Linked DNA regions of Homo sapiens: region 2 is linked to region 1. Evidence: fine-mapped expression QTL. A gene starts in region 1. The other region holds a variant in brackets. All regions are shown on one strand. Distances are from middle to middle. Region 1 holds the start of RAD21 (RAD21 cohesin complex component). Region 2 has its middle 21 kb from the start of MIR3610.

What was found. PIP is the estimated chance that this variant, and not a neighbour inherited with it, causes the effect.
Region 2: its variant is fine-mapped to the expression of RAD21 in whole blood (TOPMed, PIP 0.94).

The regions. Positions count from the first base shown.
Region 1 is chr8:116,867,953-116,879,963 of GRCh38, forward strand. RAD21 (RAD21 cohesin complex component) reads right to left here and starts at 6,824. Exons shown (of 14, transcript NM_006265.3): 1 at 6,659-6,824. It overlaps RAD21-AS1 (RAD21 antisense RNA 1), which reads left to right and starts at 6,472. Exons shown (of 2, transcript NR_033886.1): 1 at 6,472-7,033; 2 at 7,469-8,916. MIR3610 (microRNA 3610) reads right to left here and starts at 6,848; the gene lies at 6,776-6,848. RefSeq lists silencers at 6,132-6,181, 6,342-6,661 and an enhancer at 6,772-6,821.
Region 2 is chr8:116,890,125-116,902,135 of GRCh38, forward strand. No RefSeq gene overlaps it. Among named protein-coding and RNA genes, the nearest start is that of MIR3610, 21 kb to the left of the region's middle. RefSeq lists enhancers at 11,663-11,752, 11,803-11,882. The variant G/A (reference allele first, on the strand shown) is at 5,179.

The DNA.
Region 1 (12,011 bases):
CCATCACTACAAAACTCATCACATTCATCCCTCTCTCTCTGCCATTTCTAAGTCTTGACAAACACCACCTGTTCTACATTTCTAATTTTGTCACTTTTTTTCTTTTAAGAGATGGGGTCTCATTCTGTCTCCCAGGCTGAAGTGCAGTGATGTGATCACAGCTCACTGCAGCCTTGAACTCCTAGGCTCAAGCAATCCTCCTCCCTCAGCCTCTCAAGTAGTTGGAACTACAGGCATTGAGTCACCACACTGGACTTAATTTTGTTGTTTTGAGAAAATTATATAAATGAATCATATGGTATGTGACTTCTTGAAATGGCTTTTTGGATCTAGCACAATGCTTCTGTGATCCAAGTTGTTACGTTTATCAATAGTATATTCCCTTTTACTGTTGGACAGCATTCCGTGAGATTCATATACCACCATATGCTTGGACATTCACCTATAGAAGGACATTTAGTTGCTTCCAGTTTTTGGCTATTACAAATAAACCTGCTATAAATATTCATGTACAGACTTTTGGTGAACATTAAGTTTTCATTTCTCTAGGACAACTGTCCCGAATGTGACTGCTGACAAGTATTGTTAAGTATATGTTTAGTTTTTAAAGAATCTTTAATACAATTATCAAAATGAGTTTTTTTATATTTATAGGCAAGATTATCAAATTTATATAGAAAAGCAAATAAACTAAAAAAGCTAAAACTATTTTGAAAAATAGTGAGAAAAATTAGTCTATTTGATTTCAAGACTTACTATATAGCTATAATACTCAAGATTGGTATTAGCAGAGGAAACACAGTCAATGTAACAGAACTGAGAACCCAGAAATAGCCCGCACAACTAAGTTCAACTAATTTTTTTTTTTTTTTACAAAGATGCAAAAGCTATCTAATGGAGAAATGATACATTTTTCAACAAATGGTGCTGGAGTGATTAAATACGATCTGAAGACCAGAAAACATGCACGCACGCACGCACACACCCCCCACAAAACAAAAAAGGCAAGGAAAAAACCCTCCACCTAAATCTCACACATTATATAAAAATTCAAAATAGACAAAACTTTTAAAAAATGGCAGAGGGGAACCTTCAGTACCTAAAGCTTGGTAAAAATTTTGACACATCAAAAACACAACCCATGAAGGAAAAGTTCTTGCTCAATAAACTCGCCTTTATCAAATTAAACTTTTGCTCTACGAAAGAAATGCAAAGACAAGCTATAGACTGGGGAAAAAATATTTGTAAACCACACATCTGACTAGAACTCAGATATAGAATATGTAAAGAATTCTTAAAACTTCAGGGGTAAGAAGAAAAAAAAACTCCAATTAGAAAGTAAGCAAAAGAGGCCAGGCAGGCTGGCTCATGCCTGTAAACCCAGCACTTTGGCAGGCCAAGACAGGCAGATCACTTGAGGCCAGGAGTTCAAGACCAGTCAGGACAATTTGGCAAAACCCTGTCTCTACTAAAAAACACAGAAACTGCTACGTGTGGTGGCATGTGCCCGTAATCCCAGCTACTCAGGTGGCTGAGGCAGGAGGATTGCTTGAACCCAGGCTGTGGAGGTTGCAGCGAGCTGAGATCGCGACACTGCATTCTAGCCTGGGTGACACAGCAAGACTCTGTATAAAAAGAAAAAAAAAAGTGAGCCAAAGAAGAGAAATTTCACAGAAGAGGTTTACTGATGACAAATAAGAACATGAGATGTTCAATTATCCTAGGCATTTGAGAAATACAAATTAAGGCCAAAAACATTATCACCACACACTTAATATAAGAGCTAAATTAAAAAATAGTGGCAACATCAAATGCTGAAAGACACAGAGAAGCTGGATCTCTTACACTGCAGGTGGGACTAAAATCTCTTGAATTAGCTTTTCTCTAAAAGATACAGAGTAATTATTTTTCATTTTTTCACAGTCTGTAAATCTTAAAGAATTTTGCTTACTGTACTTTCAATTAAAAATGTGCCAATTCTTTCCCATGATGTAGAGAAAATATATTTTAGTTACGCGTATCACAAGCAACAGATTTCTTACATGTCAAAAATATTTTGGAGGGTGGGGGGCTGTGGTGCAAGACTACTGCAGTCAGGTTTGCTTTATCTCCATTTCCATCACTTAAGAGTAAAGAGTCTTGAAATTCTCATTCTCTGAATCTAATGTTCCCAAAGGATTATTAATTCATACTAAAAAAACTTTTCCTCAAAAGAAAAAAAACCAGGCTTTGTCAACTGTCTAATGTTGTAAACTCTTCCTCCCAAATTTGGAGTTAAGGAAGGAAGAAATTGGCTAGCGGTGGTGGCTCACGCCTGCCATCCCAGCCCTTTGGGAGGCCAAGGTAAGAGGAATGCTTGAGGGCAGGAGTTCCAGACCACCCTGGTCAATATAGCAAGACCCCGTGTTTATTTTTTAAAAAAAAGAAATTAAAGAATGAAGAAATACTATATTCTATACTAAGAACTCAGACAAAATATTCTTAAGGTACGAGCATTAAATAACACCTCAAAGGTGCTTTATTTGCCATTTGTTATTTTATAGATTAAAACATGCTTCCCATACCGGAAGAGAGCCTCCTATGTTTCAAATCAGTGCCTACTTCAAGCCTTAAAATGTTATCACAAAACTTAAGCTGCTCCTACTATGTTATAAATAAAATCTAGAGAACTTTACAGAAATCCAACATAGCAGCATGTTCTGAGAAATATAATCGCTGTTGTACAGGACAAGCCCCAAGTTCCACTATGGAAGCAAGCAACTGTATCCTAAACAAAAAACTCCTTAATATTAAGCTTCTAGAATACTATCTGTGGCATGACAATTACTAAATATGTGCTTAATGAATAAGTAAGTAAGATCCACCAAGTGATCTCATAATTGGCATATGTAAAAAATTTTAGACGTTTTAAAAATTAAAACTACTGGCATTTTTCAACAGGTGTCAGTAGCTCCTGGCCAGCACTTCAGCTGCTGGTCAGAGCACCGTGCCTAAAATATCCCAGCTATGCAGAGGCAGAGATTCCTAAACAGAAGCCTGTTTGGCATAGGATGGGGCTAAGGAAGGCAGAGTGATGCTAAAATTAATGTGGGAAACAATTAGCAAGAGGAAATCACTCTAATAACTAAAGGAAGCCAAAGGAGCAGTGGTGGATCGACTCCTGGTGTATATCTGAATAAGGAGAAAGTGTAATTATAATTGCCTTTTAAGCCTATTTTTTTTTCCTTGATAATACCAAACTTCATCCAATCTTTAAAAAAGTCGATTAATCTGTTTAGATTTTGAAGATTCTATATTCTGCTAAATCCTTTATGAAAACCCTGTGCAGAAAATCTGCATTTGATACCAGAGCACAACTTAGCATTTCATGATTTGAGAATCATTTTTTTCTAAAGCGGCAAGCAGTTTTTTTCAATTGACCCTAAAAAATTAAAGTCTGATGTGAAACAGCAGAAAGATTGCTATTTTAGAACATATTCAAGAATACAAAAAATGGCAATTTAAGACTGTTTCAAAGAATCAAACTGAGGCTCATGCTTCTAGGATAGTATCAGTCATTACCAATATTTCACTCATTAGAAAGCATGGCAGGACTGCGGTTGTGTAAATTGGTACTGTCCTCTCTGAAGGACAATATGACAACATTTTATAAAAATTTCACTTACACTTTCTAGCCAGAACTTGCACTTTCAGTAATCAATACAAAAGATATACTTGGAGATGCATATTACTAAAGACAAAACCAAAAAACCAAACACGAAAAAATCCTAAGAAAACTTACTAAGCACTACGTGTTTTATGTATCCAACCTCTTCATGACTGTCCTACAGAAGTAAATTACTGGCCCATTTTAGAGATGGAGAAAACAGATGAAGATAAGTAAATGTCACTAGTATTTAATGGAAGTGGAACTTGAACTTCAGAATCCACACTTCTAACTACAACACTATGCTGCCTTGCCAGAGCAGAACAGAACATTCGAAATAACCTACTTGGCCATCAATAAGTGATATGAAAAATTAATAAACCCAAACAACGGAATATAGTCGGTCCTCCTTATCCATGGCTTCTTGCATCCATGGACTAAACCAACCCAGGATCAAAAATTGTTGGAGGGGGGGACAAAAAAACACAATAATAAAAAATACTACTAATAAAAAACTATAACAACTATATTAACTATTAACATAGCATTTACATTGTAATATCATAAATGGAGATGATTTGAAGTATATGGGATGTTAGTAGGTTATATGCAAATACTACACTATTTCATATAAGCGACTTGAGCATTCGTGGTTTTGGTTCTGGAACCAATTCCCCTTTAATATCAAGGGACAATTGTACAGTACAACTTTAAACAAGAATACAACATTTGTACTAACATGGAAAATCTCCAGGTTAAGTGCAAAAAAGTTGGAGTTTTAAAAAAGAATGCTCTTTCTCTATATATTTACGAGTTCTTGAATAAGCTTAAAATACCTGTGGCGTACACATGAAACTGGTGATACTGGTTACCTCTGGAAAGTAGGTATGCAGGGCAAGTGAGGCCTACCTTTTTGTACTGTTTGATATATATATATACATACACACACACACACACACACACACACATATTTTAACTCGGGACATAAATGTACACCACCTATTCAAAGTAAAAACTACTATCTCAGAAGTAAAGACATAATCCTGCTATTGTCATTAACTAGCAGTTAAGCTGCCTAACCTTTATGCAGTTCAGTTTCCCTACTATGAAAACCTGAAAGGTTGAAATCTGGTGGTTTACCTAACCTTTGAAAACGTCAATACCTAACTCAGATCAGAACGGAGCTACCTCTTCAGGGGAGTAGGGGGAAGGATCTCTGAAGATATTTCTAACCCTGCACACTAGAAATCTCCTCTGTTTTGGTTCTAACATCCTTTGACCAAGAGTTTTACAATCAGACAGTCGTAGGTTCAAATTAAGCTCCCTCTTTGCTCAGTTGTTTTGTAACGGTGAATAAGTTACTTCTCAACTATAAACTGGGATAATATTCATCAAAAAAGATTATGAAAATTAAATACAAGGGCACACCTAACATAGTGCCACTGCTGATGCGAAAAGTAACTCTGAAGACAATCTTGCAGCAAAACATTAACCAGCCAGTATAATCATGCCTAACAACTCTGGTTTGACATTTAAACTAAAAACACAACCTTATTTCTCAAGAATTAGAAAATTTCCATTCTGTACCAAACTGTAAAAGCGTTTCTTAGAATTTGTATGTTTCACAAAATAATTCACCAGAAATTCTTTTGTAATTCTGACTTGTGTATAAAAAAAAGCACTATGTCTATTAGTTATGCACTGCTGTCACCTCAACTATACAAACTGTTAACTTATTTGAAGATCAGATATGGCGTATGTCCTCATCAATGCCTTTCCAAAAATAATTAGTTGCCTCCGACATTAACAAAGGTATTTAATGACTTCACGATTTGAGAAACCTTCTCCTGCCTGTCTCCAAAATTCTATAGACTCGCACTGCCCGCTGGCATTTACACCCAATTTAAGAAAATAGAAATTTTTGCCTGAAAACCAATTACTCTTCTAACCAGTATAATGACAACAAAGATTAACTTTCCCTTGCAAAAAGAAGCCGATAAACACAAGCCTTTCCCAGAAACTCTTCGCACAAACGCTGTTTTTTTTTTCACGCTGAAGACACTAACAAATCAGAGTGACCAAGTAAATCCCCCAGGGTTTCCCTCTTACAAATTTGAAGAAGGCCGCTAAGTCTGGCAGCACAACCCGACAGTGTCACCCCACACTATCAAAGCGGATCATTCGCAAAAAGCCTTTTTCAGCGACGAAAAGGGCATCAAGCATTTATCAGAAACACACACCTCCCCCAGAGCGTCTCTACAACACCCGATATCCTTAATCACTTTAAAGAATGATCAGAAAAGTTCAGGGGAAAACCAATTATGCAAATATCCTTGGAAAAAGAAGCAACTTCCCTCCGTCTCTTTTTCCACGCGTCTGTGAAATATTCAGCATTCCCAACGTAAAAATTATCTTTTTAAAACGGGAGGGCAGCAGCAGTCACTGGCCGAGGGGCACCCGCCGACCCCCCGCCCCACCCCGCCCAGCCCCACCAGCTCCGCACTTTCTTGAGCCCCGCACCCGAGTTCGGCGGAAGGTTGCTGCTCCCGGGGCTGGCACCGCGGGCGCCGGGCCCGCCACCGCCTCCTCCCAGACAGCCATTTTTACCCGCGGAGTAGGCGGCCCGGTCCCCAGAGCGGGCTCGTTCAAACCTCCTCCCCTCCCTCCGCAGCCCAGGGTTTCCCCGGCCTCCTGGGGGACGTGAGATGGACCTGCAGGGTAACAGCCTTTGTAGATCTCAGAATGGATCAGAATCATTTGTTACCGAACAAGCGATGATGCGGGCCCAAGCTGCATGGGTCCGGGCCGAGGGCGGGCCCGGGGCGAAGGGGGCTGGGCGGGTGGCGCCGCCGCTTGGGCGCCGGGAGGGTGGCAGCACGCGTGGGCGCGGCGAGGGCTGCCTTCTCCCTCGCCCTCCCGCCCCCAGGAGTCCGGCTCCCCGACGGCAGAGCGGCGGGGAAAGGGTGGGGGGAGGGAGCTGGAGGAAAAGAAGGGGTCGGCCGAGTCTCTTACCTTGCTCTCCGCTGGGAGTTGGGCGGGCTGGGTGGCCCGGGGAGGGGAAAAGGGTCGGGGGAGGGGGTGGGGAAAGGGGGGAGCCCTTGCGAGGTGTAGCTTCCGAGCAGCTCCCGCCGCCGCCACAGCCGGCGCCTCCTTTCCGATTCACTCAAACAAACAAGATGGCTGCCGTTACGCCGCGGCTCTTCCTGCCGCCCAAATCCTCGGTTCAAATCGGCAGGATGTTTACGGTCAAAATGGTACCTGTGCGCCTGCGCAGCCAGCCCAAGCCCCCCCCTCCCCCCAGAAGGAGCGGCGCAGGCGCAATGACTATTTCCTTTTCTTTGGAACCCGCCCTCTGTTTGTGGAGTCCACAACTGAGCAAGCGCAAAGGTGATTCTCTTGCGAGGGTCTTTGAGAGTTGCGGTGTTAGCCAATAGCGTAAGATAGCGCACGCGCAGTGCTTTCCAGTGCGGTGAATATTTGCGTTTAGCTTTATTCTTGTGCTTGTTTTAAAGAAAAAAGCTGTCGTGGTGCAATTTTGTGTGCCCCCACCAAAAAATTCATTTTATGGCTCTATAGGGATGAAAGTAACATAAAAACCTCAAACTAATTCCATAAAATATAGAGGTTCATTTATTCAGTCAACCTATATTATAGAGGGTCTTCTGTTTGCTACACGTTGGGCTCTGGATATAATGATTAATATAACAGAGATAATAACTGCCTTTTGGAAATTTTCAGTATTGCTTGGGAGGAATCTTAAAATTTCTTATCTTAAAAGACTTACTTGTACCACGAAGAAATTTACTTTTGTTTTTATTGTAGAGATCTTTCCAGTGATGAAAGAAATTGAAGAGGACACACAAAAATGGAAATATATTCCATGTTCATGGATTGGAAGAATCAATATTGTTAAAATTTCCATACTACCCAGAGCAATCTACAGATTCAATGTAATCCCTATCAAAATATCAATGACATTCTTCACAGAAAGAGGAAAAAAATCCTAAAATTTATATGGAACCACAATAAGACCAAGAATAGCCAAAGCAATCCTGAGCAAAAGAATAAAGCTGGAGGCATCACATTACCTGACTTCAAATTATACTACAAAGTGATAGTAAACAAAACAGCATGGTGCTGGCATAAAAACAGACACATAGACTAACGGAACAGAATAGAGGACCTATAAATAAATCAATACATATACAGTCAACTAATTTCTGACAAAGCTGCCAAGAACATACGTTGGGAAAAGGATGGTCTCTTCCAAAAATTGTTCTGGAAAAACTAGATAACTATATGTAGAAGAATGAAACAGATCACTATCTTTTGCCATATTAAAAAAATCAAAACAAAATGGCTTGAAGACTGGAATCTAAGATTTGAAACTATTGAAACTACTAGAAGAAAACGTTAGGGAAATGCTCCAGAACCAAATATTTCTTAGTAAGACCTTAAAAGCATAGGCAAGCAAAGCAAAAATGGACAAATGGGATCATGCCAAGCTAAGAACCTTCTGCAAAGCAAACAACAAAGTGAAGAGACAACCCATCAAGTGGGGGAAAATACTTGCAAACTACTCATCTATCACAGAATTAATAGCCATAATATATAAGGAGCTCAAACAATATAATAGGAAAATAATCCAATTAAAATTGAGCAAAAGACCTGAATGGTTATTTCTCAAAAAAGACATACAAATGGCCAACAGGGATATGAAAAAATGCTTAACATCACTAATCATCAGAGAAATGCATATCAAAACTAGGATGAGGTATAATCTCATCCCAGTTGAAATGGCTTTTATCCAAAATACAGGCAATAATGAATGCTGATAAAGATGTGGAGAAAGAGAAACACTCGTACACTGTTGGTAGGAATGTATGTTAGTACAGCACTGTGAAGAACAGTATAGAGATTCCTTAAAAACCTAAATATAGAGCCACCATATGAGCCAGCAATCCCACTCCTGAGTAAATACCCCCCCCCAAAAAAAAAGGAAATCAGTACATCAGAGTGGTATCTGCCCTCTCACATTTATTGCAGCAAGATTCACAATTGTCAAGATATGGTATCAACGTAAGTGTCCATCAGTGGATAGATGGGTAAAGAAAATGTGGTACACATACACAAGATAATATTTTTCAGCCATAAAAAAGAAAAAAAGTCCTTTCATTTGCTGCAACATGGATAGAACTGGAAGACATTAAGTGAAATAAACCAGGCACAGAAAGACATTAGTGTGAATGTTCACACTAATATGTGGGAGCTTAAAAAAAAAAAAAAGAACTCATTGAGATAGAAGGTAGAATGATGGTTACCAGAGCCTGGGAAAGGTAGTGGGGAGGGGGCAGATGAGTACAAAATCTGCCCCCTCAGATTTGGTACAAAAATACAATTAGAAAGAAGGAATAAAGTCTAGTGTTTGGTAGCACAATAGGGAAACTATAGTTAATAACTTACTATATATTTCAAAATAACTAAAAGAGTGGAATTGGAATGTTTCTAACACAAAGAAATGATAAATACTTGAGGTGATGGATACCCCAATTACCATGGTTTGTTACACATTGTATGCTTGTATTGAAATGTCAGACGTACCTTATAATTGTGTACAACTATTATGAATCCATAATAATAAAAACGTATTTTAAAAAGAAATTTTGTGTCCAGTTTCTGAATGTATTTTCATTTTAAAGTAAAACACACAGGAAAAGCAGACATTTAAGTCCATATACTCCTCATTGTCAGCAACCACTACTTCTGGACACTTCCAGGATTTTAATGACACACAGAACACCTCACTTTTACCCTTCTTATGCTGATATAGGAGATGGATAAGAAAGTGGACAGTCTTGTGCTCCACTCACTGTGGGTCCACTGTTTTTGGGTTGGGGCAAGGTTCGTCTCACTGGCTGGAGTCCATTAGCTAAGTGGCCATACTGGCCACAGCTCAAAGCTTTATCAAGTGAATTTCTGTTGTAGTTAGCCAAATATTTTATGTTCTTTTGGTTTGTTTTTAATGGAGACTTTAAGAAATTGGCATTAAGGATAGTTGTTAAAATCCCAAGCTGGGGAGTGAAGGAGTACAAGCACTTTTAACATTTTAAGCATGCTTTCCCTCGACCAATATAGATTAGATGCTCAAAGCACTTAAATCCTTCCTGCTGGTGTGGCTTTAAGCAAACTCAACAGTGGCAGTTGTTGCATCATCTCAAAAAAAAAAAAAATACAAGCTCATTAACAATTAAACTCCTTGCAACAGAAATTAGATTTCTGCCAGTGAACAATTTAATTCTTCACTTCAAAATAATTTCGGTGTATCAGCTGCTAAATGACCTCAAAACTAATCATGTGGGAAAAGTCTCCTGTCAGGTTAAGAATCACACAACCATGTTGCATGGTGAAGACGTTGTCGTTCATATTAAATTTCAGTTTAAATCAATCCCAGCTTCAAACTATGGCCAGGTGAATATGCATTGCCACTTCTTGTCTCTCTTATATTACATTAGCTTTTAGAGTTTTTGTTCATGGAACCATATATTTTTCATCTGTATTTGAATAAAAACAATTCTCTTTTCCTCATTTCTAGCAGCAAGTCTGATTCTAATATTTAAATCAACAGGCTTACCTTTTTCTTAAGACATTTATTTTTCTACTTTTGGGGGATGGTTATGAACATGGGCTTTGGGTTCAAATTCTTCTCTTCTACCTCCCAGCTGTTTTAACATGTACAATTAATGTCTGAGCTTTGATTTCTTTATTAATAAAATGAGGGTAATACTTGTCATGATGTTTGAAATAATTCAATAGGATCACATACACAAAGTGCTTAGTATAGTGCTTGGAACTGAGTAATTAATAAATGGCAGGTATTACTCTAGTTTTATCTGCTTTCTGAATAATAAGATATCAAGCAAGGTATGGGAAATATTTATCAGATATTCAATTTATAAGAACATCAGTAAACACCGGGATACTCTGCCCCATTCTGACTATATCCTGTTTTATGTTTATATTTGAAAATTATTCTCTCTCTCTCTCTGTCTTCTCTCTCCTCTCTCTCTCTGTCTTCTCTCTCTCTTCTCTGTCTCTCTCCATCTTTCTCTTACATGCTGTTCTCCTACCCCAAGTTACCTCCCAAAGTACTACATTTCTTTTCTCTTGAACTATTTATTCTTACTCAGAGCTCCCAACTCTGAGCCCGCCTTCCCATTTGTAGATTTTAATATAGTTTCTTCACATACAGTCCTAATCCCCTAAATGGCTGGATTTGATTCTTTGAACAAGTTGTATGTTTTATTCTGGCTTGGAGTCTCCTCTTATCAACATACCCATCCACCTCCTTGTATTAAAATGTCAAGTTAAATTTCTTATTGCAGGAGTTAGCTGCAGTATCTCTTCTCCCTGGAAATACTTATCTGATGAATGTGCATTTGTCAAAATTAGTAATTGTGAATTTGTTTGACTAAAACCATGAGAGGACAGATTTCAGTTACAGATTTTGTCTTTCTTCAGTTGCAAATGGTATGCTTTCCTTTTCTGATTAGTCAGTTGATGACTTGTATGATTTGGGGAAATCACTGAGAAACTGGGTGTTGCCACTGTCTTGAGTATATCTATAAAAACAGCTGCGTTCTGTCTATATCACGTTATTTTATGATGACACCCCCCCCACACACACAACTGAGAGTTTTTTTTGTGAGATAAAAACTGTTATGGCAAAAAAAGAGAGAAAATATACTGTTATAGAAAAAGATGATAAAACTTACAGTAGCAGATTTGTTTAAGATTTACATATACTGTTGTAGACTTGCTCCTCTGAACTGGCAAACTTTTAAAACAGGATTCTCTATAACATTAAAATAATTATAGAATCCCAGCACTTTGGGAGGCCGAGGTGGGTGGATCACAAGGTCAAGAGAGCGAGACCATCCTGGCCAACATGGTGAAACCCCGTCTCTACTAAAAATACAAAAATTAGCTGGGAGTCGTGGCACATGCCTGTAGTCCCAGCTACTAGGGAGGCTGAGGCAGGAGAATTGCTTGAACCTGGGAGGCAGAGGTTGCAGTGAGCTGAGGTCATGCACTCCAGCCTGGCGACAGAGGGAGACTCGAGTCTCAAAAAAAAAAAGTATTATTATTATTATAGTAAGTAGGAGGAATTAGGTGAAGAGAAGAATAAGACAAGAAAATAGATATTTCAATGTTCGGGAGGATGGGTATTAAACATGTGGTGCACCAGGTTTTTAAAAATTTTTATTTAAATAAAAATCAAAGTATAAAATATGATGATCAAAGAAAAGTTCAGAAAGAGTGAATAGCCTTTTTAAGGTTTTGGGCTAAGCAAAGAAAAATGGACTGA
Region 2 (12,011 bases), 22 kb after region 1:
TTTGATGTTATGTAAATAATGGATAGAATTTTCCCTGTCCATGTTTTTTCTGAGATGGTTTTCTCAAAAAAATTTCCATTTCAAAAGCAAACTCCACAAATACACAAAAAATAACTAAACATGGAAAGAGGTTTAGTTGCCTTAGATTGTGCAAAAGACTAGAAGTAACCGCCAGATTCTCAGCCCCTGATTGTCCCAAATCACACGTCATCAACTGACTAACCAGAAAAGGAAAACAAGCCAGTTGCAGATGAAAGAAGATTTGATTCTAATACAGATTGTAAACCCACAATGACTGTTTTATAAGCAAAGAGTCACTTTTGTGACTGAATTTGAGTTTTCCACTGCAATGTTTCTTGAAAATTCCTAAAATATCATACATTATACATTATGCCAAACACTCAACTATTGAGCGGCAAGATTTTATTGTTTTTGGGAACACTCTTAACAGGCATTGGTAGGAAATGCAAAGAATTCCAGAAACAGAGCTGGACTGGAAAGAACACATTTATCATTAGTTCCATAAATCTATGTTTCTTAGGATTAGAAGAGGAATTTCTTGGACTGAGTAGGTTTTAAATATTCTGAGCCATTGGCAGAGGGAGCTAGGATTGTTCTGTGATGTTGTGAAATACATATTTGATCTTCATTCCATTTCCTGGAGTACAGCTCCTAAAATCCTTGGAATCTCCTGAGTGATAAGAGTTTTTTTTCTTTGTATGTTACTGAGATAACAGTGGCTAAGAGCACCTAGGTAGTTTCAGGATGGGGGTCACTGGAAAGACCAAGGCATGATTAGAGAGTTGGGAGTTTCAGCCTCCCCAACCCTACTCCCCAATCCCTGCAAGCAGCAGAGAAAGGCTGAAGGTTAAGTTGATCACCAATGGCTAATAATGTAATCAATCATGCCTATGTAATGAAGCCTCCATAAAAACCCAAAAGAATAGTGTTCAGAAAGGCTTCTGGATTGCTGAACACGTGGAGGTGTCTGGAGGGTGATATGCCCACAGAGGGCATGGAAATTTCACTTTCCTTTCCACATACATTGCCCTATGAATGTACTCTGTCTGGCTATTCATCCATATCTTTTGTAATATCTTACAGTTCATTTTGTTTGTGGGATCATATAAACTTGGGCTTGACTTATTGTTGTCATTTTATTTTCCTGATACTTTGTTTTCTTGTTGTGAAATGGGGATACAATACTTTATTAGTTGGGGCTCAGTTGTAGGTGACAGGAAACATTAGGATAATCAGAAAAGAAAGAGGTTAATCATGGGGAAGAGCTGGTTTTAGGCTATGTCTCTGGGATTGACTTCCAGAATGTCAACCAAGAACCAGCTCACCAAAGAAAGGGCTACCTCTGCAACCTTCAGAAAGCTGGGGAGTCAGGAAGACACTATCCCAAACTCTTGATTCCAGCGTCAGACCACCTTAGCTATGAACTGGAGTAAGAAGCTGCCACCAGCATTATAGACTCAGAGTCACATGGTGCATACAAATCCATTCAAGCAAAATGTATGTCACTGGCATCCCTACTTTCCTTCCTTTTATTTACTGATTAATGCAATACATATTTACTGAATTGTAGTAAAGAAGTAAAATATGTAATACATTAGAAAGAGATAAACGTAATACATTAGAAAGGGATAAATGCAATGACGAAAAGTAGTGTAGGAAATGGGATTACAGAAAATTGACAGCATCGGCCTTAGTCTGTTCGTGTTGCTATAAAGGAATACCCGAGGCTTGATAATTTATATATTTAAAAAAGAGGTTTATTTGGCTCATGGTTCTGCAGGTTGTACAAGAAGCATGATGTCAGCATTTACTTTTGGTGAGAGTTTCAGACTACTTCCACTTGTGGCAGAAGGAGAAGTGGAGCTGGCATGTACAGAGATCACATGGTGAGAAAAAAAGTGAGAGAGAAAGAAGGAGGTGTCAGGCTCTTTTTAACAACCAGCTGTTGTAGGAACTAATAGAGCGAGAACTCACTCATTACCTAGAACTCACTCATTACCTCAAGGATGGCACCAAGCCATTCATGATGGATCCACCTCCATGACTCAAACCCCTCCCACTAGGCCCCACCCTGAACATTGGGGATTATATTTCAACATGAGGTTTAGAGAGGTCAAGTATCCAAACCATAGCAGAGTCAAAGAAGACCTCCTTCAGAAGGTGATATTTATGTGAATATCTGAAGAAGGTGAGAGGACGAACCATGTGAGTCTTTAGGGGAGAAGTGTCCAGGAGAGGGAGGAGAAAATGCAAAGGCTCTGAGACAGGAGATTCCCTGGAAGGCAAGCAAAAGCAAAGAGGCCAGCATGGAAGGAGTGGAGTGAGTGAGGGAATGAGCCTGCTGTCAGAAATTCACATTGATTTCAAAGTAGAAATTTCCTAAGTAACTATTGCTTGGTTTTCTATATAGACAGTGTATAAGTATTTTAAACTAAAATATTCAAAGATTTTGATATAATTTAAATGAATATATGCTCCTTTAAATGAAAGGACAGAGCTACCAATATCACTATATTTGAAGCTACTGTTATTTTAAATAATAATCCGTGCTATTAACAATGTCATTATCTGGTTTGGTTTTTCTTTTTCCTCTTTTGGAGACAGGGTCTCACTCTGTTGCTCAGGTTGGAGTGCAGTGGCATAATCATGGCTCACTACAACCTCCACCTCCCTCCCACCTCAGCCTCCCAAATAGCTGGGACTACAGGCACATGTTACCACACCCAGATAGTATTTTTTGTATTTTTTTTTATAGAGACAGGGTTTTGTCATATTACCCAGGGTGGTCTTGAACTCTTGAGCTCAAGCAATCCACCTGCTTTAGCCTCCTGAAGTGCTGGGATTACAGGCATGAGTCACCATGCCTGGCCTTTTTTCCTTTTTTTATAAGACTTTTTTTAATCATAAAAAAAAGTCTGTCTTTGATGTGACTTTTTCATGTAGAATTAATGAGTTACATGATTGACTTCTACCTTTTGAAAGATTCTTACAGGCTTCATTTTTATAATAGCACAGTTATAATAGCTGAAAAAAATCTGAGTATAGCTTGTCAGATTCATCACTGAAATATGTTTTAAGGGTGCGGAATAATAAGTAGGCTGGCTTTGACACACTGCTTTTTTTCAATGGAAGGCTAAAAGTGAGAAAATAAACTCATTTCTGTAGGAGATAGAGATTTACATTTGTTTTCCTTTGACAAAATACTCCATTCTCACACATTATACACCATTTTAAGAAGATTAGTATTTGTCTGAGACAAAGTGATCTTAGACTTTCAGTTTAAATGGTGGCATAGAAGCAAGCTGGTCTTACTACCCCACCTCCTTGCCAGAAAACCAAAAACAAATATACAGCAACAACCCAGAATCAAATATGAGGATGAGACAGATCCTGGGGACACAGAGAAATGAGAGTACTTTGAGCAGATGGTGGGAGAATCAGACTTTCACATCCATGACACCCCATCCCCCCATTCTGCCTGGCAACTAGCACCTGGAAAATCTTCTCCAACTCATGGTTTCTACAAGGGAAGGAGTGAGATTGAGATGGCCAACCAGCTTTTCTACCATCTTGGATATCTTGGGAGGAGACCTGTTATTGTCTTAACCCAAGGGAAGCACTGTGGCTGCCTGAAGGGAGAAACTTCACAGAGGACAGGTGAAGACAAAGGAGGGAAGTGGAACTACCACCCCCAGCCCTGGAAACTCTGCTCTGCAACTTGGCAAAAGAAGACATCAAATCAGAATGGTTGTTCAGGAGCATCACACCATAGAAGGTACGTTTCATAGTTTCCTTGGGTGTAAACTCCTAGCTAGCCTTCTAACAGTGCCAGGTCCCTTTAGGACCTCACCCATTCAAAACGGACATCACTCTGATCATTTACCAAAGCCAAGGTGAACCTGGACTTAAGACACACCTAGGGCCAAAAAGAAGGCTGCAACATAGTGGTAAAGATTTTCTAGGCAAATATATCCACTAAAAAAACAAAACAAGCCTGTCAGAGGAAATTTGAAAAAATAATTAATCCTTCAATACAAAGGCATAGATGTATCCAGGAGGGAATGGAATGACATTTTCAAAGTGTTCAAAGAAAAGAAAATCTGCCATCCAAGAATATTGTGCCCAGCCAAATTATTCTTCAACTATGAAAGAGAGATAAAGTCTTTCCCAGACAAGCAAAAGTTGAGAGAATTCACCACCAGCAGATCTGTCTTACAAGAAATGCTGAAGGGAGATCTTCAGTCTGAAATAGAAAAAAAAATAATGCACAAAAAGAAAACTTTTCAAGGTGTAAAACCCACTGGTAGAATTAAGTACGTAGACAAACCAAGAATACTCTATTCCTATAATGGTGGTGTGCAATCTACTCACAACTCTGATAATAAAGCCCAAAAGACAAATCTGTCAAAAACAATAATAGCTACAGCAACTTATTAAAAGATATGGAATGTAAAAAATGTAAATTGAGACAACTAAAACTCAAAATATGAGGGTGATAGAGTTAAAGTGTAGATTTTTTCGTATGTGTGTTTTTTGCCTTTATTTCTGGTCTTTATTGTGTGATCTAAGGTAAATGTCATCTGTTTAAAATAACTTGTGATATCTATGGTTTTTTTTTGTAAGCCTCATGGTAACCATGCAAAAACCTATAATAGATTCACCAAAAATAAAAATGAAGAAATTAAAACATACTACCAGGGAAAATCACTTAAACATGGAAAAAAAAAAAGACTGAGAAAGGAAGACAGTAGTCTCAAAACAACCAGAAAATAGGCAATAAAATGGCAGTAGTAAGTCCTTACTTATCAATAACACTGACTATAAATGGTCTCAATTCTCCAATTAAAAGTCATAAAGTGACTGAATTGATAAAGAAACAAGACCCAACTATATGCTGCCTTCAAGAAACTCACTTCACCTATAAAGGCACACATAAGCTGAAAGTGAAGGGGTGGAAAAAATATTCCATGCAACTGGAAACCAATAAAAAGCAAAAGTAGCTACACTTATAACAGATAAACTAGAGTAAAAAGCTAAGGTTATAAAAAATCACGAAGAAGTTCACTATATAATGATAAAGGAGTCAATTTGGCAAGAGGATATAAAAATTATAAATATCTATGCACCTAACATCAGAGCTTCCAAGTATATAAAGCA[G/A]ATATTAATAGATCTAAAGGAAGAGATACACTGCTGTATAATAATAATAGGATATTTAACATCTCACTCTCAGTAATGGACAGATCATCCAGACAGAAAATCAACAAAGAAGCACCATGGTTAAACTATATACCAGATCAAATAGGCCTGACTGAAATTTATAGAACATTTCACCCAACTGCTACAGAATACACATTCTTCTCATCAGCACATGGCACATCCTCCAGGATAGACCATATGTTAGGACACAACGCAAGTCTGAACAAATTAAAAAATATGTAAATTGTATCAAGTGTTTTTTTCTGACCATAATGAAATAAAACTAGAAATCAGTAGCAAGAGGGACCTCAGAAAATACAAAAACACATGAAAATTAAACAACATGCTCCTGAAAAACCAATGGGTCAATGAGGAAATTAAGAAGGAAATTTTTTAAATTTCTCAAAGCCAATAAAAATGGAAATACAACATATCAAAATCTGTGGGATACATCAAAAACAGTCCTAAGGGAGAAGTTTATGGCGATAAATACATTTATCAAAAAGTAGGAAGTCTTCAAATACACAACCTAACAGTGCACCTGAAGAAACTGGAAAAGCAAGAAGAAACCAAGCCCAAAATCAGTAGAAGGAAATAAATAATGAAGATCAGAGCCAAAATAAATAAAATTGAGACAAAATTTACAGAAGATAGATGAAACAAGAAGTTAGTTTTTTGAAAAGGAAATTGACTAACCTTTAGCTAGACTGAGAAAAAAAGAAGACCTAAATAAATAAATTCAGTAATGAAAAAGGAGACATAATAAATGAGACTTCAGAAATACAAAGAATCTGTGGACAGTATTATGAACAACTATATACCAACAAATTGGAAAACCCAGAAGAAATGGACAAATATCTGGACATGTACAATTGATGAATATTGAACTACGAAGAAATAGAAAACCTCAACAAACCAGTATTGAGTAATGAGATCAAAGGCATAATAAAAAACCTCTCATCAATAAAAATTTCAAGACCTGATGGCTTCACTGCTGAATTTTGCCAAACATTTAAAGATAATAAACTAACACCAATTCTACTCAAACTCTTCAAAAAAACTGAAGAGGAAGGAACACTTCCAGACTCATTCTATGAGGCCAGCATTATGCTGAAACCAAAACCAGACAAGTACACAAGAAGAAAAAAATAAAATTACAGGCCAATATCACTGATGAACATAAATGCACAAAATCCTGAACAAAATACTAGCAAAACAATTTCAACAACAATCAAAAAGATCATTCATCTTGATCAAGTGGGATTATTCTAGGGATGCAAGGATGGCTCAACATATGCAAACTAATAAGTGTGACACATCACATTCACAGAATCAAGAACAAAAACCGTATGGTTATTTCAATAGATGCCAAAAAAGCATGTGATAAAATTCAGCATTCTTTATGATGAAAATCCTCATCAGAATGGGTATAAAAGGAACACACCTTAAAATAATAAAGGCCATATATGACAAACCCATGGCTAACATTGTACTGAATGGAGAAACATTGAAGGCCTTTCCTCTAAGGAATGGAACAAACACAAGGATGCCCACTTTCACCACTTTTTTTCAACATAACACTGGAAGTCTTGACTGGAATGACTAGGCAAAAAAAAAAAAAAAAAAAAATCAGTAAATTTGCAGGATACAAAATTAACATATAAAAATCAGCAGCATTTATATATACAAATAGTAAACAATCTGAAAAAGATATTAGGAAGGTAATTGCATTTACAATAGCTACAAAAATATCAAATACCTAGGAATCAATCTAACCAAAGAAGTGCAAGGTCAATACAAGGAAAACTATAAAATTCTGAAAAGAAATGAAATTAATATAATAATTAATATTGTTAAATTGACAATAATACCCAAAGCAATGCACAGATTCAATGCAATCCATATCAAAATACCAATGACATTCTTCACAGAGACAGAAAAAAAAATTCTATAATGTATCTGGAACCACAAAAGACCCTCAATAGCCAAGGTAATACTGAGCAAAAAGAACAAAACTGAAGGTATCACACTACCTGATTTCAAAGCTTACTATAAATTTATAGTAACAAAAACATCATGGTACTCACATAAAAATAGATACATACAACAACGGAACAGAATAGAGAATCCAGATATAGATACACACATTTACAGCCAACTCATCTTTGATAAAGGCACCAAGAAATAAAATGGAGAAGGGACAGTCTTTTCAGTAAGTAGTGCTAGAAAACTGGATATCCATATGCAGAAGAATTAAACTAGACCTCTATCTCTCACTATATGCAAAAATTCAGTCAATATGGATTAAACACTTAAATCTAAGACCTAAAACCATGAAACTACTAGAAAGAAACATTGGGGGAAAATCTCCAGGACACTGGCCTGGGCAAAGGTTTACTCTGTAAGATCTCAAAAGCACAAGTAACCAAAGCAAAAATAGACAAATGGGATTACATCAAGCTACAAGGCTTCTGCACAGCAGAGGAAACAATCAACAAAGTGAAGAGACAACTTACAGAATGGGAGAAAATATTTGCACACTATCCATCTGAGAAGGTATTAATAACCAGAACATATAAGAAGCTCAAACTATTTAATAGCAAAAAAATTAATTAAAAATGGGCAAAAGATTGGTATTAACATTTCTCAAAAGAAGACATACAAATGGCCAACAGTTACATGAAAAAATATTCAGCATTTGATATGGTTTGGCTGTGTCCCCACCAAAATCTCAACTTGAATTGTATCTCCCAGAAGTCCTACGTGTTGTGGGAGAGACCCAAAATACCCAGGGGGAGGTAATTGAATCATGGGGGCTGGTCTTTCCCATGCTATTCTCATGATAGTGAATAAGTCTTGTGAGAACTAATGGGTTTATCAGGGGTTTCTACTTTTGCTTCTTCATTTTTCTCTTGCTGCCACTATGTAAAAAGTGCCTTTTGCCTCCTGCCATGATTCTGAGGCCTCCCAGCCATGTGGAACTGTAAGTCCAATTAAACCTCTTTTTGTTTCCAGTTTTGGGTATGTCTTTATCAGCAGCATGAAAATGAACTAATATGGTAAATTGGTACCAGTAGAGTGGGGCGTTGCTGAAAAGATACCCAAAAATGTGGAAGCGACTTAGGAACTGGGTAACAAGCAGAGGTTGGAACAGTTTGGAGGGCTCAGAAAAAGACAGGAAAATGTGGGAAAGTTTGGAACTTCCTAGAGACTTGCTGAATGGTTTTGATGAAAATGCTGATAGTGACACGAAAAATAAGGTCCAGGCTGAGGTTGTCTCAGATGGAGATGAGGAACTTGTTGGGAACTGGAGCCAAGGTGACTCCTGTTATGTTTTAGCAAAGAGACTGGCAGGGTTTTGCCCCTGCCCTAAAGATTTGTGGAACTTTGAACTTGAGAAAGATGATTTAGGGTATCTGGCGGAAAAAATGTCTAAGCAGCAAAGCATTCAAGATGTGACTTGGGCGCTGTTAAAAGCATTCAGTTTTGAAAGGGAAACAGAGCATAGAAGTTTGGAAAATTTCCAGCCTGACAATGTGATAGAAAAGAAAAACCCATTTTCTGGAGAGAAATTCAAGCCAGCTACAGAAATTTGCATAAGTAGCAAGGAGCCTAATGCTAATCCCCAAGACCATGGGGAAAACGTCTCCAGGTCATGTCACAGACCTTCATGGCAGCCTCTCCCATCACAGGCCCAGAAGCCTAGGAGAAAGAAGTGTTTTTGTGGGCTGGGCCCAGGGCTGCCAAGCTGTGTGCAGCCTAGAGACTTGGTGCCCTGTGTCTCCGCTGCTCTAGTCATGGCTGAAAGAGGCCAATGTACAGCTTGGGCTGTGGGTTCAGAGGGTGGAAGTCCCAAGCCTTGGCAGCCTCCACATGATGTTGAGCCTGTGGGTGCAGAGAAGTCAAGAATTGAGGTTTGGGAACCTCTGCCTAGATTTCAGAAGATGTATGGAAATGTCTGGATGCCCAGGCAAAAGTTTGCTGCAGGGGCAGGGCCCTCATGGAGAACCTCTGCTAGGTCAGTGTGGAAGGGAAATGTGGGGTTGGGGTCCTCACACAGAGTCCCTACTGGGGCACTGACTAGTGGAGCTGTGGGAAGAGGGCCACCATCCTCCAGGTCCCAGAATGGTAGATCCACTGACAGCATGCACCATGCACCTGGAAAAGCCACAGACACTCGACGCCATCCCATGAAAGCAGCCAGAAGGGAGGCTGTACCCTGCAAAGCCACAGGGGTGGAGCTGCCCAAGACCACGGGAACCCACTTCTTGCATCAGCTTGACTAGGATGTGAGACCTAGTCAAAGGAGATCATTTTGCACCTTTAAAATTTGACTGCCTGCTGGATTTGACTTCCCCGCATGGGCCCTGGAACCCCTTGTTTTGGCCAATTTCTCCCATTTGGTATGGCTATATTTACCAATACCTGTACCCCCATTGTATCTAGGAAGTAACTAGCTTGCTTTTGATTTTATAGGCTCATAGGCGAAAGAGACTTGTCTTGTCTCAGATGAGACTTTGGACTGTGGACTTTTGGGTTAATGCTGAAATGAATTAAGACTTTGGGGGACTGTTGAGAAGGCATGATTGGTTTTGAAATGTGAGGACATGAGATTTGGAGAGGCCAGGGGTGGAATGATATGGTTTGGCTGTGTCCCCACCAAAATCTCAACTTGAATTGTATCTCCCAGAAGTTCCACGCATTATGGGAGGGACCCAGGGGGAGGTAATTGAATCATGGGGGCTGGTCTTTCCCATGCTATTCTCATGATAGTCAATAAGTCTCACGAGATCTGATGGATTTATCAGGGGTTTCTGCTTTTCTTTCTTCCTCATTTTTCTCTTGCTGCCACCATGTAAGAAGTGTCTTTTGCCTCCTGCCATGATTCTGAGGCCTCCCCAGTCATGTGGAACTGTAAGTCTAATTAAACCTCTTTTTGTTTCCAGTTTCGGGTGTGTCTTTATCAGCAGTGTGAAAATGAATTAATACATCATCACTAATCATCAGAGAAATGCAAATCAAAATCACAATGAAATATCATCTCATTCCAGTTAAAATGGTTTGTATCAAAAAGGCAATAACAAATGCTGGTAAAGATGTGGAGAAAGGGGAACCCTTGTACACTCTTGGTGGGAATGTAAACTAGTACAGCCAATATAGACAACAGTATGGAGCTTCCGCAAAAACTAAAAACAGAACTACCAGCAATTCTAATACTGAGTATATATACAAGAAAAAGGAGATCAATATATCAAAGAGATATCTGCATTCCCACATTAATTGCAGCACTATTCACAATAGCCAAAATATGGAATCAACCTAAGTGCCAATGGATGGATGAATGAATAAAGAAAATGTAGAATATACACATAATTATTCAGCCATAACAAACAATGAAATCCTGCCATTTGCAACATGGTTGGAACTAGAGGCTATTATGTTAAGTGAAATAAGCCAAGCACAGAAGGACAAATATCACATGTTCTCACTCATATGTGAGAACTAAAAGAGTGGATCTCATGAAGATAGAAGATTGTTGGTTACCAAAGGCCAGGAAGAGTGGGAGGGAGAAGGGTTTGAAGGGAAAAAAAGAATATAAATGGAGCCATTATCACTTAATTGTACACTTAAAAATGGTAAGAATGGTAAATTTTATATGTATATTTTATCTCAATAAAAACCCCACAAAATTGCAAAAATTATTACTTTGTAATTATAAGCATATACTAGCCTAGGGATTAGAAGGAATACATGGTGGTGGGTTGAGGAGAAAACTATGCCAAAGACGTGTCTAAGAGAGCAGTCTTAAAAAAGGATTTCTTAACCTTTGCATTGTCATTAGGGGTGGACAATTTTCTGTTGTGGGATGCTATCTTCCGCCTAGGATGTTTATTAGCAGTAATCCTGGTATTTACGTGCTAGATGCCAGTAACATCTCCCCTCAGCCCTCCACCCCTGCCCTGCCCTGATGTAATAACCAAAAATGTCTCTAGACATTGCTAAATATCTCCTGGGGGCAAAATTATTCAGGGCTGAGAACCACTAAGTTGGAGTCAGAAGAGTGAAACAATTTTAAAAATTAGCTGGGTGTGGTGGTGCATGTCTGTAGTTCCAGCTACTCAGCATTGCTTGAGCCCAGTAGTTTGAGGCTAGACTTGGCAACAGCTCTGCATGCTGTATAGAGGTAGAGACCCTGAAAAAAGAAAGAATGAAAGAACGAAAGAAAGCAAGAAAGAAAGAAAAAAGAAAAAAATTGATCTAATCTTGAAATGTGAAGGAGACATCTCACTGCACAGAAACATAGAGAACAACTGTTTGTAATAATTATTAGTTTAATATATATTTTCTTTGCTAGATTGTAAGATGCACGAGGACAGAGACTGTAACTCTTATTTTTATAATCAGATCATAATCTGAAAGTTAGTCGACAGGTGTTTATTGCATTGCTATGGGTCTATCAATGGGTTATGTGCATTTGAGGCAGGATAGGTAGTCAAGGAAGTGACCATGTTGCCAGGACGCAGTGATCGTGGTGGCCATACAACCAACACAGGCCTCAGCGTTCGCAGTATAATTGAGCTCATTCAAGCAAAGCTATCTGCGGTGGGGACTTTTCCTTCTAGAGAGCATGTGCACTTGGATTTTACCAGTCCTCAAATTGGCGCTTTGCTCATTTCAATAGTGAAAAATACACTCCTGGGTGGAGATTTCAGATGCTAATGAGACACACGATGCATGAACAAGCATGTGCAGCTACTGTGCATGTGCACCCAGAGGACCACCCAGAACATACC